Linked DNA regions of Homo sapiens: region 1 is linked to region 2. The links come from fine-mapping of genetic effects on gene expression. Tissue or cell type: whole blood. Region 2 holds a variant in brackets; the other region holds the start of a gene. All regions are shown on one strand. Distances are between the middles of the regions. Region 1 holds the start of PITPNC1 (phosphatidylinositol transfer protein cytoplasmic 1). Region 2 overlaps PITPNC1 (phosphatidylinositol transfer protein cytoplasmic 1).

Region 1 (2,905 bases), 25 kb before region 2:
AAAAAAAAAAAAAAAAGGAAAAACAGCTTGAGTTTCTTTCCATATCACAGCCTTCCAATGTGTTATTATTCAACACTGCAGTGTCAGATTTAGATTTTCCACCTCGAGGAATTTGGTTTAGCTTTAATTAGTTGCTGTGAATATTTCTGAGCCAACTCTGGAAAGCATTTATCTGGAAAATAGTTTCCACTAAAATATAAGCTGGATATAGGGTATCATTTTCCTAGGAGGGTTTGTATCAGTTAACAGTTATAAATTCTCTCCAGCCCTCTGGATGACTTTTGCCACAAGCCCATCATCGTCATATTGGTTAATTACTTATTAATTAAACACAATTCAAAATACTGTATTGAGGCATCTGCATCGCCATCTAAGCTCTAGCTTCAGGACTTCAGAGCGTGAAGATTTTTCGGAGAAAAGATAACGCTTACAGGTTATTCTCATACAGGCAACTGATGCATTTTTCATCCGGCAACTTTTCATAAAAACAAGCTGAAAAATACCAGACAAATGAAAAACAGACTTCAGCAGTTCCATGCTGCTTCCTGAGTAACTGAAGAATGTGCTTCTTGTGGTTAAAATGAGAGATCTGTTTAATATGGATCAAATAGCAACACTCCAGGCATTTTCATTGACATTTCACTGTGACTTTTTGAACTTAGGAGTGCGGATACGAAAACCTACTCTTTCTTTCTGCTGCGCGGAGCCTGCACAATCTGCAGAAAGATTGCAGAGCCGGGCCAGGCGAGGTAACAGGCTACGTGGGGTTCATGTTCTCTCTGGTTGTTCCCTCCCCGTTTGTACTTCATTTCCATTCACACGGCTGCACTTCCCAGTTTTCCAGGATCTCTCCTCTGAAACCAGGCAAGGGTTTGTTCCCAAATCCCACCCATTGCCTCTCCAGCCCCAGACTTGCTTACTGGACCACACATAGGTGGTGGGCATTGGTGACTTGTCCCTAGGGTCAGGGGACCAGAAACTTCCCAGAGGGGCTGGATGGAGCACGGCAGCACTCAGGGCACAATGGAGAGCGGATTCAAAGGGCAAAGGAGCCGAGGAAAGCCCCTCTGCCCGAGCCTCCCCAGCGCCGGCCGGGCTCCGCTCCGGAGCAGCCCCGCCGTCTGGCAGAGACATGCTGTTTTGTTTAAATCCTCCACATTCTTTGCCATTTCCCCATTGGCCGGATGGGGCTACCCTCCCCGCCGCGGCCGCTGCTGATGTCAGCCTCGCTCGCGCTCGCTCCTCCCGCACCCACCTCCCGGCCCCAGGCACACTGCATCGGCGCGGACGCTCCGGCCCCGGCGAGGTGGCTGCAAACTCGCGGGCACGCACGGCGCCCGGGGAGCCGAGGGACTCGGGGGAGGGGACGCGCGCGGAAGGCGCCAGCTTCCTCCCGCCCGCCCCTGGCAGCCGCGAGCCGAGGTTGGAGGCGCCCGGGGCCCCAGCCGGGCAGAGCCGAGCGGCGGCGGCGGCGGCGGCTTCCCTTTTCTCCCCGAGCCGAGCCCCGGAGCGGCGCGGGGACCGGCCCTAAAAAGAGCAGGAAATCTTGTTTACCGCCCGCGGAGAGAAGCCGATCGAGCCTTTGTCTGGAAAGTCAGCATCTCCGGCTCCGGCTGCAATGTGTTCCTGGTGACATTAGCATCGGGCAGACCCGCCGGAGGAGGGGGGTCGCCAGGTTCCCGTCTGCTTTCGGAGGCGGATCGAGCGGGTGACTTTTGTGCATTCGTTTTAATTTTTGGAAATCTCTCTTTTTTCCTCCCTCGCTCGCTGCCGGGCATGTCCTGATCTGGCGGCCGCTCCTACCACCCTGGGCAGCCGAGCAGAGTCGTCCCCAGCGGGTCTCCCTCCCTGCCTCCCTGACTTTGCAACACCGCGTTCCGGGAGGACCGGCCTCGGCGAGGGAGGAGGCGGGGGAGCTGCGAACACCCAGACCCAAACCCTGACATGCTCTGGGGCGGAGAGGAGGAAGCCAGGAGCTGAGCGCGCCGCGGGGGCTGCTTCGCCCTCCGGCTCCGAGCGCCGGGCTCCGGGCGCCCTGCCCTGCGCCTGGGCAGCAGCCTTGCTGGTCTTGGGGGCGCCCCCCGCTTCCCGCCCCGGGGGTCCGCGGCCGGCAGGACCATGCTGCTGAAAGAGTACCGGATCTGCATGCCGCTCACCGTAGACGAGGTAAGCGCCGCGCCCGGCCCGGCCTCGCCCGCTCCGGGACCCCCGCCGCTACCGCCGCCTCCTGGCCGGCGAGCCCCGGGCGAGCGGCAGGAAACCCAGGTGGACGTTACCCCGCAAACCCGAAGCCTGGAGGAGAGGAGGGAGGGGATTTGCGGCTTCCACTTGTCACCCCAGCGGGGGAGGGCGGCGCTGGGTGGGGCGGCGGACTCCGGGTGGGCTTTTCGGGGGCGCCCAGAATCCAGACTGTTGGGGATCACTATGAGCCAAAGGGAGTGGGTGCGCCCCCTCCCTCCAAATAAGAAAATGAATAAACCAAACCCAAGAGCCCCCGGCGCGCGCTGTAGCTGGGGTTTGGGGGGCATCCCGTCCTGGCCGTGGGCCCAGCCTCCCCTCCCCGCCCTCTGCGGTCAGGTAGGGGTGCGAGGAGGAGCCCTGCGCCCTCGGGATCTGCACGCCCCGAGCCCCGCGGGAGGAACCTCTGAGCCCTTAGGGGAGGTCCCTGCGGGGCCCGACTTCTCGCCGTCGCCGCGGGCTTGGGCGCAGCTCCCGGCACGTCCGCCCTTCGAGGCTCGGGACCCGGCTGTGTCCTTTCGCAAACCGCCTGGCTCGGAAACTTTCTGCGTCTCTTGTTTCTTCCGCCGCGGGGAGCGGCGCGCGAGCCGGGAGCGGCGGGGGCTGCGACGCGGCCACAGGAGGGCGCTCCAGCACGTGGTGCCGGGGCCGCGGCTGCCGGCTGGGG
Region 2 (2,905 bases):
CCTCCCGGGTTCAGGCAATTCTCCTGCCTCAGCCTCCCGAGTAGCTGGGATTACAAGCATGCACCACCACACCCAGCTAATTTTTGTATTTTTAGTAGAGACGGGGTTTCACCATATTGGCCAGGCTGGTCTCAAACTCCTGACCTCAAGTGATCCGCCCGCCCTGGTCTCCCAAAATGCTGGGATTACAGGCGTGAGCCACCGCGCCTGGCCAGTTTTCTTTCTTTTGAGATAAAATCACGGAAAGAACCTGAGTATTAAACCAGTTAAACTTCCTACCCACTTAAGAGTCCTTTCTATGATAATCTTGGATGGCAATCATCTTGCCTTTGGGCTTAATACCAGCCATCGCTTGGGTGTGGGCTCTTTTTGGTAATACAACCTCTATGATTTTCCACTTTGATTTGTTGGAAGATGCTTTCTCATGTTTAGTTGGTATCTGACTCCTTAGAGCTTTCAGGATCGTTTCTACCACTATAGTGACAAACACAAGCCCTTTCCACATGCTGACTCTTTAAACATTTAAAGAAATCTATAATGTTGGCTGGGTGCGGTGGCTCATGCCTGTAATCCCAGCATTTTGGGAGGCCGAGGCAGGTGGATCATGAGGTCAGGAGTTCAAGACCAGCCTGGCCAAGATGGTGAAACCCCATCTCCACTAAAAATACAAAAATTAGCCGGGCCTGGTGGTGGGCGCCTGTAATCCCAGATACTCAGGAGGCTGAGGCAGAGAATTGTTTGAACCCAGGAGGCGGAGGTTGCAGTTAGCCGGGATTGCGCCACTGCACTCAAGCCTAGAAGACAGAGTGAGACTCTACCTCAAAGAAAAAAAAAAAAGAAAAGAAAAGAAATCTAGATTGTTCTCCTTTGATCTTCTCTTCCACTGGCTTGCTACTCTCAATTCCTTCAGATTGAATTTATGAAATGCTTTTGTCTCCCTCACCATTCCTGTGGTTCCTCTTTCTTATTGCCCTTTAGAAAATATTGAACGCAATGCGTTACAGCAGAGGTCAACTAACTTTTTCTGCAAACCGCCAGATAGCAATATTTTAGACTTGCAAGCCGTAAGGTCTCTGTTGCAACTACTCAACTCTGACCTC[G/A]TAACATGAAAGCAGGCATAGGGCAACATGTAAATGAATAGGCGTGGCTGTGTTCCAGTAACATTTTATTTGTGGACACTGAAATTTGAATTTCATAAAATTTTCACATGCCACGAAATATTATGTGCCTTTTGCTTTTTCTTTTCCAACCATTTAAAAATGCAAAACCCATTTGTAGTTGGAGAGGCGTACAAAAACAGGCTATGGGCTGCATTTGGCCCATGGGCCGTTATTTACTGATCTTAGATATTGGAGGACCAGTGCTGAAACCACTGGAACTTCAGCTTTAACACTAGCACTGTCATTTTCAGAAGCCGCATCAAACTGCTGGCTGCTTCTGACAAGGTGGTCAGTTACACTTGGTCTTCTCCACCCCCCATCCCCCGCCCCTCCGCCATTTCCTGACAAAGCTGTCTCTCTAACCTGTGGGTATGTGTTCTGCCGAAAACAAGCAGCCATACCACAGCAGCCGTAACCATAGGACTTTGAAACAAATGCAATGAATGGCATCCACTAGTTTCAAGTTTGACCACATGTTTTTATTGTTTGTTTGTTTGTTTTTTGAGTTGGAGTCTCGCTTTGTCGCCCAGGCTGGAGTGCAGTGGCGCAATCGCTGTTCACTGCAATCTTCCCCTCCCTGGATCAAGTGATTCTCCTGCCTCAGCCTCCCAAGTAGCTGGGATTACAGGTGCCCACCACCATGCCCGGCTAATTTTTGTGTTTTTAGTAGAGACAGAGTTTCACCATGTTGGCCAGACTAGTCCGGAACGCCTGACCTCAAGTGATCTGCCCACCTTGGCCTCCCAAAGTGCTGGGATTACAGGCGTGAGCCACCGCGCCTAGCCTGACCACGTTTTTGATTCTTGCTTCTGTTATATCTGTATTAACCGTTCTTCTTAGCTTCGTGGCAGATGTGATAAGCATGCCTTTGTGTCTTTCTCTAAGTCACTGACTTTTCAGTAACATCTAAATCATAAAACATAGGTCTGGCCAGGTGAAGTGCTTGTGCCTGTAATCCCAAGGGGCCAAGGCGGGAGGATTGCTTTAGTCCAGGAGTTGGAGACTAGCCTGGGCAACACAGTGGACCTCATCTCTACAAAAAAAAAAAAAAAAAAAAAAAGTCATGACTGCTTTCCTTTGTTGCAGAAACCAGTAGGTATTTGGGTGTAGAAATGAAACCCTCAATTATATTCATAAGGCTAAAAATGAACTATTCCCTACTTCCTCATTTGTTTTGATTTTTAAAATAAGGTTCTCGTTAGATATTTTGAGAAACAGTTTAAGATTATAATTTTGTATGCAGAGGAGAAAATTTAGAAAATGGTGAAGCCAACTTTTTTAGTGTATAAACATTTAATCATAATTATATATGTGTCCGTGTGGACATTTATTTACCAAGGCTTTGCTTTAAGGGGAAGGGAGAACACAGAGGGCCAACATTTATGGAACATTCTAGTGGGCCAGGCCCAATGTGTTAATCATCTCATTTCAATTTTGCAGTTATCCTCCAAGGTGGATCCTATTATCTTCATTTAACAGACGTGGAAATTGAGGCTTAGAGGATTTGACAAAATTACCCCCATCATTAATGGCAGAGCTGGGTGTAAACCCTGGGCTTGGACTGGCGTTATGTCTCACGGCTGTAATCCTAGCATTTTGGGAGGCTGAGGTGGGTGGATCACCTGAGGTCAGGAGTTTGAGACCAGGCTGGCCAACATCCTGAAACCCTGTCTCCACTAAAAATACGAAAATTAGCCGTGTGTGGTGGCAGGTGCCTGTAATCCCAGCTACTTGGGAGGCTGAGG

Evidence for each region. PIP is the estimated chance that this variant, and not a neighbour inherited with it, causes the effect.
Region 1: PITPNC1 starts here. The variant in region 2 is fine-mapped to the expression of PITPNC1 in whole blood (TOPMed, PIP above 0.99).

What each region holds. Positions count from the first base shown.
Region 1 is chr17:67,376,037-67,378,941 of GRCh38, forward strand. PITPNC1 (phosphatidylinositol transfer protein cytoplasmic 1) reads left to right here and starts at 1,245. Exons shown (of 9, transcript NM_012417.4): 1 at 1,245-2,166. The coding sequence starts at 2,119. RefSeq lists an enhancer at 1,051-1,744 and silencers at 1,130-1,249, 1,300-1,549, 1,900-2,319, 2,330-2,629, 2,740-2,905.
Region 2 is chr17:67,401,022-67,403,926 of GRCh38, forward strand. All of the region lies in intron 1 of PITPNC1 (phosphatidylinositol transfer protein cytoplasmic 1), which reads left to right. Among named protein-coding and RNA genes, the nearest start is that of PITPNC1, 25 kb to the left of the region's middle. RefSeq lists a silencer at 1,132-1,426. The variant G/A (reference allele first, on the strand shown) is at 1,101.